Linked DNA regions of Homo sapiens. The protein of the gene in region 1 interacts with the protein of each later gene in a pairwise test. Each region holds a gene or a part of one and is shown on either strand. Other genes may lie near its edges. The genes, in order: LIN28A and ZNF275.

Evidence for each region.
Region 2: the proteins of LIN28A (region 1) and ZNF275 interact in binary tests that used the Homo sapiens proteins (3 or more experiments, as listed by UniProt).

What each region holds. Positions count from the first base shown.
Region 1 is NC_000001.11:26,411,932-26,422,334, reverse strand, and holds part of LIN28A (protein lin-28 homolog A), read right to left. Parts: intron 1-10,403. UniProt on the Homo sapiens protein: RNA-binding protein that inhibits processing of pre-let-7 miRNAs and regulates translation of mRNAs that control developmental timing, pluripotency and metabolism.
Region 2 is NC_000023.11:153,343,087-153,353,489, reverse strand, and holds the end of ZNF275 (zinc finger protein 275), read right to left. Parts: intron 7,971-10,403; coding exon 7,869-7,970; intron 6,672-7,868; coding exon 5,515-6,671; 3' UTR 564-5,514; downstream 1-563. UniProt on the Homo sapiens protein: May be involved in transcriptional regulation.

The DNA.
Region 1 (10,403 bases):
AAACGATGTAAGATTGATATTCCCAGCCAGGCACAGTGGCTGATGCCTATAATCCCCAGCACTTTGGGAGGCCAAGATGGGCGGATTGCTTGAGCCCAGGAATTCGAGACCAGCTTGGGCAATATGGCAAAAACCCATCTCTACAAAATAATACAAAAATGAGCCAGGCACAGTGGTACACACCTGTAGTCCCAACTACTGGGGAGGCTGAGGTGGGAGGATCCCTTGAGCCCAGGAGGCAGAGGTTGCAGTGAGCAGAGATCACACAACTGTGCTCCAGGCTGGGTGACAGAGTGAGACCCTGTCTCAGAAAAAAAAAAAAAAGATAAATATTCCCATTCTTGGGAAATACGCACTGAAATATTTAGAGATAAAAGTGCTTACTGTCTCCAACTTATGGTTTCAAAAAAAAAACTATCTGTAGCAAGATAGAGAATGATAAAGCAAATGGGGCAAAATGTTAAGAGTCAATGAATCTGGGTAGAGGTTATGTGGGAGTGTTGGGTATTGTTCTTGCAGCCTTTTTAAAGTTTGAAATTATATCAAAATAATGTTACCGAAAGACAGTATAACCCAAGCAGATGGATCAGAGGATTAAAATGGAAAATCACAGAGATCTGAGAATATATGGAGAAATCAATAGGTAAGAAAAATAATTCAATAAATGCTGCTATAAAAATTAATAATCCATTGGGAAAGGAAGTCATATTCCTACAGACTTTGTATGATACATATGCAAAATACATTTCAGAGGATTTAAACACCTCATTGTTAAGAAAAATACTGAAAAGTTAAGACAGATAATCAGACTGGTAAAACTACAAAAATATACCATAAATCACTAAGAAAAAAGAATTACACAACATAATATAAGTAGATTATCAGTAGGAAGTCTTAGCACGACACATATACTCAGTATCTCATTGTTGCTTTAAAAAAATTGGAAATAACCTACTGGTGTATTTGAAGGGGAATGGTTGAATAAATATGGTACATCTATAATAATGAATACCACGCAGCCATTAAGAACAACGTAAAGTCTTTGGTTTGTTCACAGCCACATTTTGGTACCTGAAATAATGCCTAGCACATTTTTGAATGAATTAATGAAACAGGAGGCAGATTTTTAATCATTCAGCTGAGAAAGATCACCAAATAATATTGTTAAAAGAAAAAACAAAAAGCAAGATTTAGAACAATATGTATGGAATAATCCTATTAGAACACTGCACGTTTGTACCAAAATTTAAGGACACTGATATTTATAAAGCAGTTAGCAAACAGCCAGCAGCCATCAAGAAAAAAAAAAAAAGTAGTTGTTGATACAGCTAGTTCTGTAGCAAAGCCAGGGTCAGATGAACCCAGAGTTCCTGATTTAAAGCTCAGAGCTCATTCTATCATGCCACTTACTGCACCACCAACTTGACATTAGCGGAGGTGACAGCATCTCAGACCCTACCCAGAATAGACTTCATTACAGCTTCATCTATTATAGTAAAACAACAGTGTCAAATATGTCAACAAGGAGTAGTCGTCATAGAAAATGGAGAAGCAAAAGGGATCACTGTGCACTTACCTAGTCCTGGCTCAAGGGAACATGAGTAAGTAGCATTCGTATTTTATGCTGGTGGCTGGGGGGTAATATTCCAAACTGGAACTTAAATGAAACATGCTCTTCATCAAGATGAAGGAACCACAGATTCCTTATCACTTAATTTTTTTTTTTTTTTTTTGAGAAAGTCTTGCTCTGTCGCCCATGCTGAAGTGCAGTGACACGATCTCAGCTCACTGCAACCTCCGCCTCCTGGGTTTAAGCGATTCTTCTGGGTTTAAGCTAGGACTACAGGCGCACGCCACCACACCCAGCTAATTTTTGTATTTCTAGTAGAGACAGGGTTTCACCTTATTGGCCAGGCTGGTCTCAAACTCCTGACCTCATGCCTCCTAAAGTGCTGGGATTACACACCATGCCCGGCCAAATTTTTGTTTTAAGATGATATTGCAGGCCGGGTGCAATACCTCTCTCGCTGTTTCACAGTAACCACCCTGAGTTTAAAGTTAGATTTGTAAGGTCGGGCATGGTGGCTCACAACTGTAATCCCAGCAATTTGGGTGACTGAGGCAGGTGGATTCTGAGCTTGAGGCTCAGGAGTTGGAGACCAGCCTGGGCAACAGGGCGAAACCCTGTTCTCTACAAAATAATACAAAAATTAGCTCAGCATGGTGGCATGTGCCTGTGGTACCAGCTACTTGGGAGGCTGAGGTAGAAGGATCGCTTGAATCTGGGAGGCAGAGCTTGCAGTGAGCTGAGATCGCGCCACTGCACTCCTGCCTGGGTGAGAGAGCAAGAACCCATCTCAAAAAATAAAGATTATATTAGATTTGACTTATTTTTTATTGAGCGGGGTGGGACAAGAGATGCAATTAGTGGGTGAGTTGGGAGGTCCTAGAGGAGCCAGACCAAGAGCCTTCTGGACCCAAGCAATTCCAGCTTCATTTGCTTGCCCAGCTTGTCTTAGGCTGGGACACTCCTAGTTCTAGCTGTGATTCAGCAGGTAAATAGTTAAGAACAAGGGTTGATTGAGTCTGATGGCCTGTTCCCTCCTTTCTTTAATCATCTATAAAATGGAGTAAATACTAATTTTATGGTAGTGCTGTGAGGTTTTACACATGAAAAGTAGTTAGCACTTCGCCTGCTACACATAAATCCTCAGGGAGTGGCAATTATCAACCTCTTCACACTGGGTGGCGTGGGTTAACAGAGAGAACTAAGTGCCAAGCATCTGGTTTTATCCTAACTAGCTATAGAAACTTAGAAGAATATCCCCTCTCTAAGCCCCAGTTGACTGGAGAGTAACACCTTCCTCTATGGACACCTCATAGGTTTATTTTAAGAGGATCATATAAATGGGGACATGCAACAAGAAATTGACTAGTCCTCTCAGGTCACTCACTGCATCACTGGAGGATCTGAGGTCTAAGACTTTTACAGAGTAAACCCCCACCCCTGCAGGTACCTCAGTGTAATCAAGAGATTTAAACTGGTGGTCTCCAGGGGTGGCTCCCTGCCCTCCTCCCCCGCCCCTTTCTAAAACACATAGTTTGAATTCCTCTCTTATCAGATAGGTAATCAGCGTGCAGCCCCACAGAGCCAGCCTCCCAGGGCCTGCATCTGAAAAGCGCCTGAAATTCTTGTACCACCCCCATTCCACCCCCAACCACACACAAAGCAGGGCCCCGCCCCCTTCCCCATCCCCTCCAAAAAGAAAAGACCTTAGGGGGAGGGGCATGGCCTGAGCTCCCCCAGTAGAGCCCAGCCCCAGGAAACAAAGAGTTGACACTGGCTGGTTCTGGTGGTCAGATTCCTGGAGTTCCAAGGAGCAGATCCCTCTTGCATCTCCCTCTCCCTCCTCCCCACATTCAACTGTTTCTTCCTTCCTCTCTATGTTGGGGTTATGGTCACGGGAGAGAACTAGATATAGAAAATTCTTCCTTCCCCAGGCAGTCTTGCCAAAGTCACCATCAGCAGCCATCTCCCTTCTCTGGCTTGCGCACTGCCCACTTCATGGATAGAACCAAACAGGACCCCCTCCCCTTGGGTCTCTTCAGTCCAATCCTGAATTATTGATTCAGATAAATTATTTTAAAGGGGAGGGGGAGAGAAGGCATGACCCATATCATCCTTTCCCAATTTCTTCAAGTTAGGACTGTGGGGAGCCTACATGGGCCTACTGTGTTGGGGAATGTGGCATCAGACAACAGACAGCATTTCTTTTTCTTTTTTTTTTTTTTAAAAAGTCTGGCTCTGTTGCCCAGGCCGGAGTGCAGTGGCACAATCTCGGCTCACTGCAAGCTCCGCCTCCCGGGTTCACGCCATTCTCCTGCCTCAGCCTGCCGAGTAGCTGGGACTACAGGCTCCTGCCACCATTCCTGGCTAATTTTTTGTATTTTTAGTAGAGACGGGGTTTCACCGCGTTAGCCAGGATGGTCTCGATCTCCTGACCTCATGATCTACCCGCCTCGGCCTCCCAAAGTGCTGGGATTACAGGCGTGAGCCACCGCGCCCACCCCAAGCATTTCTTTTTCTTTTTTTGATAACAGGGAAGGAATCTCTCCAGTTAAAGTACTTAGGCCTTCTGATCCCTTCTTAATACCTCAGTAATTGCCTGCCTTACCCTATCCAACCCACACCAAGTACCTCATCCCAGCTTCAATTTATGCCTTTGCAAGCTTAGAGATAGAATGAGCCTTAGGGGTCACTTAGGAAATGTGGAGTTAAAAACAAAAGAAAACATTATAAAAGAAAAAAGTATGAAGAGAAAAAAAAAAAACAACACAAAGGAACCTAAGTGTCCTTTCTCCAGAAGTGGCAACAGAATTTCAGGGTACTTGCTACAGTTGTGCAGATTAAAGCTGGGGTTCTTGGCTCTTCCGCAAGAGGCTATTCCAGATCTTCTTCCAGGGCCATTCCAGCCGGAAGATTCTGTAGTGCAGGTCTCTACCTCAATTCTAGGTTCTTAGCTTGCACAAGCATTTGTTGAATGTCTAAGTACTATGCAAAATAACTGTTACTAATTGATTCTTACTGTAGGCTAAGTGGCATTCTAACCACTTTACGTGTTGTAACTCATTTAACCCTCATATCAAACTGGTGCAGTGGGGTGATATGAAGACCCTCATTTTACAGCTTGAGGACATGGAGGCAGAGGGGTTAATAAGCACCTTGGTTAAAGTCGCAATAAGAGGCAAGAGCTGAGCTGAGTGCAGCTGGCCTAACTCTCCCCAGTGCAATTCATTATGATGCAAGTCACATATATAATTGAAAACTTTCTAGTAGCTACGTTTAAAAAAGCAGCTGATGAAAGTAATTTTAATGATTCAGTCCTGTGGTGTCACATCCCTAACTTAGCTTCATTCCTGGAGGTAAGATTTGGTAAGGGAGAACCAACCGGTTCTCCCAGAAGCAGTTATTCGATGGTGTGTGTGTCAAGGAGGGTGTGTGTCAAGGAGGTTGGTGAAAGGGGTGTCTGGAACAGAAGGCTGCAGGCAGCCAATCCCTCTGATCCCCTCTGCTCAGCCACAGCCAGGCCCTGTAGCTCCTGCCTGGAGTTCTCCACCAGATGGCGCTGCTCAGCCTGTCTGCCCAAAGGTAAGCCCGAGGGCGCCTATACCAGGAGGTACTGAGTGGCCCGCTACCTGGTCTGAGCTGTGAACTCAAGTGTTCGGGTAGATTTATCTCCACAGCTCCTTAGGGCAGTCATCTTGTCCTCCCCGTCCCACCCTGCCCCCACCCAACCACCGGCTTGATCAGGGATAAGAATGAAAGGTTCCTAGACTTTTAGGCCAGAAACTCAGTTCTTATATTCTACTGCTTAGAAAAGCCAAGTCCTGTCTAAATTAAATAACACCACGCTGGGCCAGTCATGGTGGCTCATGCCTGTAAATCCAGCACTTTGGGAGGCCGAGGCAGGCGGATCACCACGAGGTCAGGAGTTCGAGACCAGCCTGGCTAACATGGTGAAACCCCATCTCTACTAAAAATACAAAACATTAGCCGGGCATGGTGGCAGGTGCCTCTAATCCCAGCTACTCGGGTGGCTGAGGCAGGAAAATCGCTCAAACCTGGGAGGTGGAGGTTGCAGTGAGCTAAGACGGCGCCACTGCACTCCAGCCTGGGCAACAGAGAGAGATTCCGTCTCAAAAAAAATAAAAAACCTCGATGGTGAGATCATGTTAAATAAGTCTGTATCAACTGTGTATTCTCCCCCAACTCCTTTGACCTCCCACTCTGACTATGTGGCCAGTGGTTGCTATTCATGCCTGCAGGAAGACAGGAGGCATAGTTTTACCTAGGGCAGTTACTCCAAAAAACAAGAATTCCAGTAGAGTGTGATTAGCAATGTTCAAAAAACTAAATGGCCCTGGTGAATGTTACTGAAAACCACTTGTAAGGCAGGCAGCAGTGTCAACAACCAGAGGGTAGAAACATCCCATATTTGAAGCTTTGTTCAGGATGGTGTCACAGCCTTTACTTTACACTGTCGCCGGGCATCATGGCTCATGCCTGTAATCCCAGCACTTTGGGAGTCCCAGGCAGGTGGATCACTTGAGGTCAGGAGTTTGAGACCAGCCTGGACAACATGACGAAAACCCTTCTCTACTAAAAATACTAAAATTAGCTGGGTGTGGTGGTGTACATCTGTAATCCCAGCTACTTGGGAGGCTGAGGCAGGAGAATTGCTTGAACCCAAAAGTCAGAAGTTGCAGTGAGCCGAGTTCGTGCCACTGCACTCCAGCCTGGGCGACAGAGCAAGACTCTATCTCAAAAAATAAAAATAAAAATAAAAAAAAGACATTGTCTAGAAGCATGTCTCAGAAAGAAGAGGACCCCAGAAGATTCCACAATGTCTTCATGAACCTTCCTACCTCTCTACCAACTTTCTGAAAAATCGAGTCAATTTATTTTTAAGCTGCCTTTTCTTATTAAGACAGAAATAACTCATGGATGACCACTAAATCCGTGGCTTCCACTCTGTCAACAAAAACGAGAGGAACCTCTCTGGGCTCCGAGTGGTGATCTACCCATATTCACTCCACAAACTTTCATAGTGCTATGTTGTGCCCAGGCCATATTCTATGTTGTGCCCAGCCCAGAAAGCGAGCAGCTACAATTGACACCCCTCAGTATCTCTAGTCTTTTTCTCTGAACAAAGATCTCTGCCAACATGGACCCCAGACTGCTAAGTGTACTTCTGATTCACCAAGGTCCTCAAGATGCCCCTTTTCTTATTCATTCCTCAGCCCACCAAATGCATACTAGAAAATTAACCAGGCAGCTAAGTTCCTCCCTTCAAAGAGCTTATGGGTTACATAGAGAAGGGTATAAGACCAGTACCTCAATAACTAGACATGAGGTGAGTAATCAGAGGTGCAGTGTTACAAACCAGGAGGAAAGATTCCGTATATTTCCCCACCCGCCCCCGCAACCCTAACACCAAACCCAGCAGTCCTAACCTAGACCCTGAATAAAGTTGCTCTTACCACCTCCTCACTCATGGCTTTTAGAAAAAGAAGGCCACCTGGCTACAGGGCAATTTCAGCAGTTGTCTAGGTATTGAAAACCTTTTCTCCTAACCCAACTTGGTCCCTTGGTCAAATCTGGGCTTTTGACTCCAAGTCTTCTAATATAGCATTTTAGCCAGAAAGCCAATTTAAACATATTTGAGATTGAAACATATCTGGGTCCTGAGGAGCTATGGGAAAGCAGGGAACTTTTCTTATTTCCAAATTTCTATAAATCTTGAGAGTTTGCAAATTGAGCCACAGGAAACATGAGTTAAGCCAAAACTCTTAAAATGGCCCAAAATGAGGATTTTTGAATTCTTGATGAATCTCAGGAAAATAGTTGACAGTTTAGCTTTCTTGTTCCAGCTTTCCTATATAACTGTGTTTCTCAAGCAGGGATGAGATTTTTGACTCCAAGGGGACATTTGACAATGTATGGAGATGTTTTTGGTTGTCATACCTAAGATGCAACTGGCTTCTAGTGGGTAGAGACCAGGAATACTGCTGTACATCCTATAATACATAGGACAGACTCCCCAGAACAAATTATCCTGCTCAAAACATGTCAATAGTGCTGAAGTCGAGAAACTCTAATTTAAGGGCTTGCTATCTATTTCCCTAACTCTAGAGACAGGCAGATTTCTAGATCTAAAGATGTGTACCTAAGGAAAAGAGTTGTTATAGAAATCTCTTTGCTTTTTGTTTTGTTGTCGTTTTGCTTAGTTTTTGGCTGGGGGTGGGCTTTTCCCCCCACTCATCTACTCTTGAAGAGGATATTACAGCATTTGGGAGAGAGCATAAGAACATTAGTTAACAGGGCATTGGGATCCTAATAACCCCAACTTTGGAAAGGAAAAGAAAATGTTTTTAAATTGCCTTTCCCCCTTCCTCTTTATTTGCAAAGGGGCTCCCTGACCCCCTCCCTCTGGTAGATGCTATCTTAGGACAATTACCTTCTCACCAGCCCACCCCAACCCCAGGGTGCCCAACCCCAGCAGCCAAAGAATGGGAAGTTTTGTTAAAGATTTCTTACCCTCTGCTTCGGGAACACTTTCCTCCTCCCCCAGTAAACAATTTATCCTGTGTTTACTAAATTCCTTTACCATAAGATTTCCAGAGAGTCATTTCTAATTTCACAAATGCAGAAGAGTGGTGGCTCATGCCTGTAATCCCAGCACTTTGGGAGGCCAAGGCGGGCGGATCATCTGAGGTCAGGAGTTCAAGACCAGCCTGACCAACGTGCAGAAACCCCGTCTTTACTAAAAATACAAAAAATTAGCCGAGCGTGGTGGCACATGCCTGTAATCCCAGCTACTCAGGAAGCTGAGGCAGGAGAATCGCTTGAACCTGGGAGGCGGAGGTTGCGGTGAGTGGAGATCATGCCATTGCACTCCAGCCTGGCCAACAAGAGCCAAACACCATCTCAAAAAAAAAAAAAAAAAAAGCAACAAACAAACAAACAAACAAACAAAAAAACAAGTGCAAAGACTGGAATCACTAATCTAACTTACGGTTAAGGTGGGGTTGGAGGACCCCTGACCCAAGCCTTTCTGGCATGCTACCATTATCAGAGCTACCAGGTAAAGGCTCAGGGAATTTCCACCCATCATTGTGCTTTGTGAGTAGAATGGGAAGAGCTGGGGATTAGAGAGACAAATTCTTAATTCTCTTCCAGCTCAGCTCCCTATTGACAACTTACTCAACTATGGGTTCCTGGATGTTCCAAGAGCCTAAAATCCAGAGTATTTCCAAGCCAGCACATCTGACCCAGCATGGTGTAGACTCAATGCCTGCTCTATGCCATCCAATAGTTTCCCAATTGCTCTAGATCCTAAGGTGAAGCCTGCTGAGGCCCAAGTCCCCATTTGCTCAAACAAACAAACAAACAAAACAAGAAAACACCTTCCTTGGGGTATGTATATCACCAAGGAACCCAGAAGATGAGGGGATACATTCCCCTCAGCCCCTCCCTATCTGGCAGCCTTTGGATGGGAGATGAGAAAACGTTGGGTCTGACTCTTTTATTCCAGCCTCCCAAAGTTGGGGGAGCTGTCCAGTCCCCAGACCAGGAAAGATTTTAATCTCTTTGTGATCAGATAAATGGGAGAGTGGGGGAGGCTTGCTACCCTGCTGAGGAGGGCCATTCAAAGCTGGTTCCTGTAATAAAGTGATTTAATAGATCTAAAAAGGCCAATTCCCTTCTTTCTCCCACAATTACTTCCTGTGGGTTATCATTCACATATGTAAATGAGACAGAGAAGGGAGAAAAGCCACTAGTGGGAAACTAGCTGTCTAATGGGGGGTTGGGGGAATAAGGGTGCTGCAAAGGGGCAGCTCAGTATCCTGCTGCAGGTCCTCTTGGCAGATGTTCAAGTAGCCCACTGACCCCATGGCCCCAACAGTAAGTGGTGGCTCCCCATCTCCCTGCGTCTATTTCCCTTGTTTGTTCCTCACTGAAGGCTGTGCTCAAAGACGTCCCTGCTGCCTCCAACTAGTCCATCCAGCATCTCCCTTCTCTACCCCTCCCCCAAAGAATGCCATCCCTTCAGGCTCCAACCCTTAATCCCCACATCCTCCTTTCCCCTCCCCCACACCTCCTAAAGCCAACCTCCCTTAAGTAACCCCTCCCTGCCCGGCCTGGGTGTCAACCTACACGATCTGGGATTAGCAATTTCTTCTTTCCAGATCCAGTCCCAAACCTCCAAAGATGGAAGGGCCATAGGCAGCAAGCAACTTCCTTTCCATGGTCTTTATGGGTAGCTGGTGGCCCAGGACCACCGGAATGCCTCTAGGATATTCAGGAAGGGGAAGCCTGGGAGGAGGGAGACCTGAAGTCTCTGGCTCCTTGTTTGAGGCCAGGAATGTTAAGACAGCAATCAATGGCTGTCTGGGGCCATAAATGCCAAGCGGAGAATAGGACCAGAGGCCAGCCTCCCTTCACCCCCTGCCCTGCGACACTGAATTTCACCCCCTACTGTGCTGCCCTGCTTTAACTGAGAACTTGGGGTTGCGACCTACCGACTTCCCTCCCAGCCTGGCCCAGGAATGTAAGGAAGGCCTGGGCTCTTTGGGTTTTCCTTCCTCACGGGAACTGGACAGCAAAGACCCCAGTCCTGAGCTTTCAAGCCCCCACAGGGATCCTTCAGGGATCTGCCAAACCCAGTTTTTAGTGACCAGCCAGGTGAGGTCTGCATTAAAAAGGGGATGAGGCTGACTTCTCGGCTTTACGCCCCTTGGGTCCAGTAGCCAGTTGCCCTCACTCTCTCCCGCCTTCTGAGCTCCATTCAGACGTTGGAGGAGCTGGGCTCCCGGCTTAGGCCCGGCATGTGCTTCCCTGG
Region 2 (10,403 bases), on another chromosome or scaffold:
TCCTTCTGCAGTTGGGCTGCTGGCTCCACGGCTGAGCCGTTGGCATTTAGAAGGGCCAGGAAACTGGGGCCTGCTCCTGCCCCTGACTTCTCTGAGGCAGTGGTCACCAGGCAGAGGGCCAGCCACAGGCCACCAAGAGGACCGAACTCCTGCTCCCACCCCTATGCAGCCTAGGGATGATTCTCAAGTCCCAAAGCCATGTTATCCCATTCCCAGTCCCTGAGGGAGGAGCTGAGGATCTGGCCTTGTCTTCTGCTCCCACCTGGAATTCCGATTTGGGGAGCCCTAGCTGCGGTGAGGGGAGGCTGAGTGAAAGACCCCTTTCTGCCAAGGGAGAGCTCAGAGTTCCAGGCAAACCAGCCTCCCCATCAGGGTGCTTCCTCTTCCCTCCAAGTGCCCAGCAAGCACTGGAATAACATTCCCAGCAGGGGCCACAACAGCACCTGGACCCCAGGAGGGGGCAGTTTCCAAGTGCAAGGACAAGTATAGAACCCCATGGCATGGAGAAAGGAGCAAGGAAAGTGGTAAATGAAGGTTTGACAAAAGACGTCAAGGAAGACCAATGCCATTTAACATATATTTATTGAAATCTACTTGATGCAAGGCACTGTGCTAGATTTGGTAGGGGATCAGACATGAAAGGCCACCCCTGTCTTCTAAGAGCTCACAATTTAATGGGTGGGGGAGGGCTGAGGAGGAGGGGGTGAAGCCAAGTCCACAAACAGCTCTAGTGCAAGGCTGATTATAGTGAGTGCCAGAAAACAGACAAGGTAATGAGATGGGGGAATGAGAAAAAAGTGCCAACAACCAACGGAAATACAAACTGGGGTGGGACATAGCTATTGTTCTCAGAGATACGCAAATGACATTGAGGGCCAAGTTTAAAGAGACAGTTTCTGCTTTTCAAAGTAAACATCCAAAGTGATGCAATGAGAACTACAGAATGTAAGTACATGAGTAAGAGAGAAGTTAGCAATCCCCCCATCTGATGGACATGCTGGAAATCGTGAAACACTTCAAAAATAAGAGAACAGGGTGCACTGTGATTTCACTCATTTTATGGCCCGCATGTGGTGGGTTCAGTAAAGGAACAATATACGTAGACATAAAATCACAGGTTAAATTCACTGAGACTAGAAGGCATCGACTTTCACCCATCTTAGAGAACAGAGAACACACGTTTGAACAGGTGTTCATGCAGTCAGGTGCGACTTGGCCAGGAAGCAGCCAAGTGGCAAAACACAATAGAAAAGAGTAGAGACCCACTCAAGCTGGCTCAAGTCAAGGAGTCTGTAGTGGGGACGCACGTGGACCAATGAGGGCTGCTGCCAGAAATCCAAGAACATACCATGGCCAGGCCTTCCTCCCAGCAGGCGCCACGCTCCTCACTCCTCTGAGTACTGTGCTGCTCCCCACACCTTCTGATGCCTAGAAGCTTCTGTTTCCTTGTTTGCATTTCAGATCTGGAAGGCCTGGTGGTGTCCGTGGTCCATCATGTTCTGTCAGCTCTATGCTCTGATGATTGCTTGCTGCCCTTGGGTCAGGTGTTCAGTTCTGGCTGAATTAATATGGCCTAGAAGCGGGGTGGCAAATCACATGGTACGCAACAGGGCCACAACCCAGGGCTGCAGGTAGGGCAGGCGCTGTGCCAGTTCTAGGACAAAATCAAGCACATGGAATGCAACACCACTCAAAAACATGCCCGCTGCAATTGGGTAGGGACTATTCTGGAAATGCAAGAGTGGGGTGACACAGCTAATGGACACAGCTCATCGTAATAAGCAGCAAAAATGGTAATCAATTACTTTCTTTTGAAAATTTTCACAAGTATTCAAAACTCTAATAAAAGCAATGGAGGATTTTTTTCAAATGGTAGGAAAAGAACATATTTCTTTTTTTTTTTTCTTTTTCCATGCCAGGCAGTTAATGTGCTGACATAGTAACAAGGTTTGAAGGAGGAACATCTCATGCACGTGCGTGGAAACCCAATTGTCATGTGTATGAACTACAAAAGGATCGGGAAAAGAACACATTTCCTCACAACAGGAATACATGAGATTAGAAAGAAAACCGGAATGAGGTAGATGCATGAATGCACAGACAAGGATATGTGACAGGAAGCTGGGTGACATTTTGCATCTGACATAGCAGTACACCTAGAGAGCCCAAGGAAATCCACCCCCAAGTTACCAGAGGCAAGAAATGATCTTGGCGAAATTACAGGACACACGTTAAAGCCACAGACTGCATTGAAAGAGAACACGGGTTTCACCGCAAACACCATGAACAGCTGTTCTGTCAACCTTGACGGCAAAGACCAGATCTTTAGTGTTAACTCTAAAAGAGCATTTGTTTGGGAGAAAATTATAGAACTGAAGATGGGAAAGAGTCAAGGACGGCAGGAAGGGATGCCAAGACACCACGTCCCAGCTGGGAGCAGTGACGACTTTATGCTACGTTCTGAGTTAATGCTGCATTCAATGGGATCCCTTCATAAAAGGGATCTACTTCAATGGGATCCCTCATGAAACCCAACAAACGATAAATGAACGGGCAAGACATGGCAGAGTACTTCTAGGTAAAGGTGCCAGACTTGCCCCTGGTAGAGGTCAACCTTCTTTATCAAATGACAGCTGTACAAAACACATCCTAACAACTCGAAAAGAGAAAAAGGATCCGAGAAGAAAGTAGTGATTTCAGACACAGATTCACAACTACTGCAAGAACTGAGGCCCACAGGGCAAAAGGAATCACTATGTAACAAGTGCTTTTGGCTCCTCTCCAGCCTGGGGGTCAGGATGGGTGCCTGAGAAGCCCTTCCAAGTTGTGTCTGCTAGGAAGCTCTGCCTCAGCCTTGGTGGGCCCACGAGAAGGGCACACTTCCTTGCCAGGCCCTCCTAGTGTCCCTGTCCCCAGCCACAGCTGCTGGGAAGTCACAGCACAGCCCTGGTGGGGCTGGCTTCTATCTGTGGCTTCTGTGGGCCACTGGAGGGGCAGGTTCCTCGCTAGCCCTTGCTGCTGTTCCTCTTGGGGGAGCCCACTGGAAATGGTAGCTCAGACCCAGGAGGACCAGCTTCTACTTCTATGCCACACAGGCTTTCAGAAGGGTTCCACTGCCCTCCAAACCTTTGCTTTAGTGCTCCTCCTGGGCATGGCTGTTGCAAATCATAGCCCAGGGCAGTGCTGCCAGCTTCTATCAGCATAACGCACAAGCCATCGGAGGGGCAGGGTTCCTCTCCGAGCCTCTGCTCTGTTGCCCTCACTTAGGTGTGGCTATAGGAAGTGATGCCAGAACACATGGGTGAATTTTCCCCTAGCTGCCCACAGCAGAAGCCTATGAACCAATCTCTTTCTAGTTCTAGAGTCACCGGCTGAAAGGAGGATGTGGTCTAGGCAAGTCTTCTTGTGTCCAAGGAGATGTTTCTTGGGTGAATCTGCTGCTCAGTCACTGAATCCACTCGGAGCATTGCCAAGGCTCCCAGGAGCTCAAAGGATGGCTGGGCTGCTTGCTCCCAGACCAAGTTTGGACCACTCCATTGATCTAGGTGAGGCCAAGCCCCACTGCTGCTGGCGGGGTCTATAATGATGAGCAGTCACAGAGTTCTGGCTAATCTATGATGGGAGCATCTCCAGTGTGCCGCAGTGGTCAGGTTGGATAGTCAAGTGGTGCCCACAGATAGACAGGGAGTCCGCATCTCGGATGAGGAAAGAGCCTGCTTCTCTGGCCCATTTCCATCCAGCCTGCCCACCTGGTGTACTCACCTTCTGATGGGCTGGGGTTGCAGCTTTTTGTTTGTAATTAAAATTCTAGAGAAAATGTCATCATATCTAGCTACAGAAGCAATGAAAGTTATGACTGAGTGGACAAAAAATGAATGCTTGGATATGTAAAAATTAAAAGCTTTCACAACAAAAACGTAATAAAACTGCTACAAAAAGCAAAGCAATAAAATTGGAAAAGAGAACATCACCATCAATATAGAAAGAACTGCTACATAAAGTTAATATATCCGAAGGTAAGTTGATAACTAGTCAAAGGAGATGAACGGACCATTTGCATGCAAAAAACAGAAACACCATTTAAGTCATCGCATAAGAGAAAGATGAGACTGGTGGTCAGGAGGCCTGGGGTCTATCCCCAGTTCTGGAATTGACAAGCCACAGAATGACGGCAATAACTATGACAATGACAATGACAGCAGATGGCCTTCACTGAGTGTGTACCTCCATACCAGGCCGGTGGTCCTGGCACTCTGCAGCCACGATGGCAGTCCTCGTGATAACCTTCGGAGGTAGGTGCTGTGATCACCCCTGTTTTATAGAACAAGAAACGGAAGGCTGGAGAAGTACCATCTAGGCCTGATACCAGGAGAGGCTCATTTCCAAAAGGAGGCGTCACCCTGCACTTGAGTCCTTGAGATGTATCTCTTCTTAGGGGCATGCTCTCAACTATTTTATTTTGAACAAAATAGTGCTGCTTGAGGACAAGACCCATTAGTTCAAAACAACCCCAATCGATGCTAGTTTTGGATATGTATAGGGGACACCAAATTGAAATGGTTTAAGAAAAAAAGATACCGACATTTAACCCAGATTCAGTAACTGTTACTAGGCGTTTGGCCTCACAATGACATTTTGGGTGCTTTAAAAGAAAAGACGTTTAAAGGTTGTTTGAAAAAGTATGACCTTAAGTGGTTATATTGTACAGTCACAGGACAGATTAAAAAACGACAAGAGAAATCGTCCTAATGTTCTGCAAATATGGTCTTATGGCTTGGGAGAAAATTTCTAATGAGAGCCTCATGAAGGGATCGTCACTGAGCGACCGTGCAGAGCTCGGATGGAAGTGACTGGGTGTGTCTTGAAACTGTCTGATGACTCAAACAGGGTTCCCATGTTGGTGAAGACGGTGAGGAGTCAGAGTAAAATGATTTCGTGAAAGGGAGGGTGGCAAAAATGGGGTATTTTCTAAATTAATATATTATTTTATATAATATGTGATTTACAGTATGTATGTATAACTAAATTAATAAATTAAATATTTTAAGACATTTGAGTGTTCTATTTACATCCCTAAAAATTTATAAATTCAAGTAGGCCAAAAATCATGAGGGCAACGTTCTCTTCAGGAAAGCTGGGATCACATTATGAGGACGCCATCGTGGAACAGCTCTGTGTGTTTCTCTGGGGCGGGGGGAGCTTGGAGTTGATGACCTCTAAGCCCCTCCCTACCCCACATCCAGATTTGTCCTCTCTCATTCTTGGATTCAAGGCATGTGGACTGAAATACCTTGATGGTACTTCCTACCAGTTAAACTAGCCAAACTAAGTTAAATGGTACAAGCTACTCTTGATGGGCATAACGTAACACTTATAAATTGCTGGTGGCAGTATAAATCGGTCTCAACCTTTTGGAAGACAAAATATATAAGCGCTACAAAACTGTTCATCTCCTTTGACTCTGCCATCCCCTCTGGGGACTCCGTCCCTGTCCCGCGGGACCACAGGGCGTTTCTACTCGTGGTGGGTTGGCTGATGCTTCTGCAGTGCCGAGCGCCTCTTGAACACGCGGCCACACTGGCTGCATTCGCAGCGCCGCGCCCCACTGTGGATCCGCCGGTGGCGACTGAGGCCGGAGCTCCGGCGGAAGGCCTTGCCGCATTTGTCGCACTCATAGGGTTTCAGTCCGCTGTGGATGCGCCGGTGCTTGATGAGGTCAGAGGGCCCACGGAAGGCCTTGCCACACTCGCCGCATGCGTAGGGCCGCTCGCCACTGTGGATGCGTGCGTGCTCCAGGAGGCTGGAGCTCTGGCGGAAGGCCTTGCCGCACTGGCCGCAGGCGTAGGGCTTCTCGCCCGTGTGGATCCGCCGGTGCTTGGTGAGCTCCGAGCTCCTTCGGAAGAGCTTGCCGCAGTGGGGACACCCGTATGGCTTGGCCCCACTGTGGATGCGCTGGTGCTCGGCCAGCCCGTTGACCCCTCGGAAGGACTTGCCGCAGTCGTCGCAGTCGAAGGGCAGGTGGCCAGTGTGCATGCGCTGGTGCTTGAGAAGCTCCTGGCGATCCAGGAAATCCCTGCTGCACGCCTTGCAGGCGAAAGGCTTTTCCGAAGTGTGAAGTTTCTGATGTCGGAAGAGGTGGGTGTTGACTTTGAACGACCGCCCGCATTCCTCGCAATCAAAGGGCTTCTCTCTGCTGTGGACCCTCAGATGCTGACTCAGGCCTGCATTCTTCTTAAACCGTTTTCCGCACTCCTCGCACTCGAAGGGCTTTGCCTCCCTCTCCATCTGCTCCCTCTTCTCCGCGGCATTCTCCAGGGCCCTACTGGGGCCGGGCTGGGGCTCCGCAGCTACGTGGCTTTTCCTGTGCTCATTAAACTCCGCCACCCCCCTAAAGACCTTCCCGCAGTCGCCACATTCCCAGCCCTTCTCCTCACTGTGGACTCTCTGGTGCTGGACAAGCAGGACTTTAAGCCGAAAGGTGTCCCCACACTCTTTACAAGCAAAATGATGTTCTATGGGCAGATTCTGTGGGCTCCCTCTCTTCCCGTCAGAGTCCCCGTGCTGTCTGAATTCAGGACTGGGACCACTGGCCCTTGGGAAGCTTGTGGACGCCATCTCCTGTGGCTGGGCATCTTCCCCCTTCATCTGGTGTCGGGTCGCGGAGGTGCTTTCTGAAACGATAAACACAAGGCAGTGTAGTCTGCAGAGGATGAAGGAGGGAAGGGCCTCTCCTTTGTCAAGAATCTTTTTCTTTCTGAGACAGCCACTGAGCACGGGGCCTGGGCCCGGAAGCCACCAGAAGCAAGGACTGCAGAAGCCAGGGGCAGAGGGACCTCATTCTGGACACTCTCTACCACAGTGGTGCTGAGGAGGTCACCCCTTCTGTGACCAGAGAGCAGCCACACACGTCCCCAAAGGCTCAGCTGGGTCCCCCAACCCTAACCTCAACCCCAAGAGCTCAGCTGGGATCCCCAAACATAACTTGAATCTCCAAAGGGCCCTGCTGATCCTCAACCTAACCTCACCATCAAGAGCTCAGCTGGGGCCCCAAACCCTAACTAGAACTCCAAAAGCTCAGCTGGGACCCCCAACCCTAACTGTAACTCCAAGAGCTCAGCTGGGATCTCCAAACATAACCCGAATCTCCAAAGGGCCCTGCTGATCCTCTCAACCCTAACCTCACCGTCAAGAGCTCAGCTGGGGCCCCAAACACTAACTAGAACCCCAAAAGCTCAGCTGAGCCCTCCCAACCTTAACTTCAACTCCAAGAGCTCAGCTGGGCCCCCCAACCCTAACTTCAACCCCAAGAACTCAGCAGGGCTCCCAAACTTAACCTCAACCCCAAGAGCTCAGCTGGGGTCCTAACTTTAACCTGAATGCCCAGAGAGCCCAGCTGATCCTCTCAATCCTAACCTCAACCCCAGGAGCCCAAATGGGCCCCTCTACTCGTAACCTCAACCTCAGAAGTTCAGCTGGACCCCCTAACCCTAACCTCAACCCCAAGAGCTCAGCTGGGTCCCTCAACCCTAACCCGAACCCAAGAGCTCAGCTGGAACCCCCCAACTCTAACTCAAAACCTCCAAGAGGCCAGCTGATCCTCTCAACCCTAACCTCAACCCCAAGAGCTCAGCTGGGCCCCCAACCCTAACCCAAACCCCTGAGAGATCAGCTGTTTCTCTCAACCCTAACCTCAAGCCCAAGAGCTCAGCAGGGCCCCCAAACCCTAACCTCAACTCCAAGAGCTCAGCTGGGACCCCCAACCCTAACCTGAAGCCTAACAGCTCAGCTGGGCTCTCCAACCCTAACCCATGCCCCATAGCAGCTTGGTTGGGTCTCCCCCAATTTCCTCACATTTCTTTTTCACTCACCAGAGTACTTAGCAGGATCAGTGTTGGGCGATGGGTCTGACACCAGTAGCACTTGTCCTTGTGCCAGGTGAGGGACCAAGGCAGGATTTAAAACAGGAACGCCTGCTCATGGGAAAGGAGATTGGTTATGGCAACAGCCAGAGATGACATGAGAATAGTGGAGGAACATAGGCAAGGCCTTTGAAGGGGAACCCCCTTCAATCTTCAAAGACCAGGCTTTAGGCAAGTCATTCATTCAGTTCAAAGGTGTTTCCCAAGGTCAGGCTCCTTCCAGGAGCTTGAGGAAGGCAGCCTCTGGGCCCACCTTGGGGAGGCTCTGTGGAGTATCAAGTGGCCACCCTGAGGAGGTGATCTTCACCCTGTCTTCTCTCTGTCCACCCACTCAGAGCTCACACATTTAACTTCATGCTCTTCCCAGACACGTGGACTTCGACAGCTCCCAAATCTGACTCCCAACGTCTCTCCTCCTAAAACCTCCTCCCCACTGCACACATGCAGACCCCTAATGGGTGAACAAGATCTTGATCACGTCAACCTTTCTCACAAATAAACTCAAACCAAATGGCCATGCAATTTGCATAATTTGTGCATTAAAATGAAAAGGGCATTCTACATTACAGTGGCAGTGTTCTAATTTCTTTCCCAGTAAAAGACTGAGAGGGGTTCTTTCCATGCCAAGAGGAGTTGGGGGAGCTCATACTACTCTGACATATCAGGTGTGGCAGACCCATTGTGTTTCCCCACAACCCAGGGAGAAGGTGAGCTTCTGTGGGGGTAGCCATGTGTCCCCTGCCCCACTCCAAGAAGGTGGTGAATTTGAGGAAGGGCTGGGACATCCTTACCCACAGAGGTCACGTTCCCATAATATTCCAGTGCCCTCTGTTCAGGGTCCAGCTTAAACCACTCCCTTGTGGTGAGGTACCATGCCACATCATCAAATGTCACCAAATCCTGAAAGAATTCCCAGGGCTCATCAGTCTTTCCATCTATTTTAGAATGAGGCAGGGGCAGCGCCAGTAATGCCAGGGTCAAGAGGTGAGGGTCTGGAGTGGGTGTCTGTTGCTAACATGGAGGCCTAACCACAGCTCCAAGAAGTCCTGAAAAGAGAACCTGATCAAGCACTAGGATCCCTGGGCCATGGACCTGGCCTCTCGTCTTTCCAAGGGACCTCCATTCAATCACTTTCCTGGATGGAAACTCAGCTTCCCCACCTGGATGATTGGAACTCCAAGCCCAGTGGACATCCAATCCTTGGCAGCCTCCAGAAGAGAAGCAGAGGGAGGGTAGGAAGGCAGCAGCTGGGGTTCATACTCTGCCGTGTGTCATGCTGGGGCAAGAGACAGAGGCTGAGGCCAGATTCAGGGAGCGGTGAGAGAATCCCAAGCAAGGCAGAGGGAAGCACAGCTCACCTAGGCCTCTGGCATCTCAAGAGGGACTGCCAGGACCTGGTTTCCTGGGGCTCCATCCTGGGGAGGGTAAGACCTTGGGGAGTAGGTGGAACTAAAGAAAGTGAAAAAGGCCATGAGTGACGACAGCCCTGTCCCTGGATCCCCTGGGAAGAGACTGGTGATTTCTTCTTCCTTGGTTTCTGATCTTGTTGAGTCTTCTCTCACATGCTGGCTGAATGACAAGCCAGGGCACGGAGATGCCTGAGAAAACACATCTTGAACAATGGGGAAAGTAGCCTGGCAAAGAATGAACAGAGGCAGGCCAGAGGGAGCCAAGACAAGACCAGCAGATGCCAGCCCAGGCACAGCTAGGAGAAGACAGACCTAGACAGAAAGCCAAGGGCAGGGAGACTGGCAAGCCTAGAAGTCCATGCTGATGCTGCACAGGAAGGAGGCACACCAAGATCATCAGAAGAAATAACCAGGAAATGAGAGACCCTTTCCAACTTTGTAGAGGCAACAAAAAACCGGATGAAGATGCTGGAGGGAAGAGAGCAGGAATGGGGGCTTCTAGACCAGCAGTGAGGCCCTTAAAAGCCACAGCCCACTGACACAAGGAGCCCGGTGACAGCAAGACAGGTACACATGACAGCAGTTCTCTAACGTGTTCAACCCAAATGAAAAGTGGAACAAAACAGCTGGAAAAATAAGCCTCAAAGAAAAGATCTTCAAACACTAAATTGTTAAATAAAAGAGCTGAATGATTTGTACAAATTATCTTCTTCTTCCAAATTGCAAAATATGTGAAAGATTCAACCACCGGCATCCGTGCATCACAGGCCTCCCACTTCAGTGAATTCTAAGAAACAGCTACACAGTTCCTGTTGTGATGACAATTCAATTCAATTCAACTCATAATTCAGTGAAAAGGAAGGCTCTTACACTGGCTCAAGGCCCACAAAATCCAGCTACTCCAGAAAGACTCTTATATAAAATTAAAGATGTTATGTGAAAAAGAATGGACAGAAACTTCCACGTTTGGCTGCGATGGAGTAACAAGGAACAGATTTCACATCGTGCCATAAATAAGTAGAAAAAAATGGAGAAAATATATGTGAAACAAGTTTTCAGACACTGGACAGCAGGA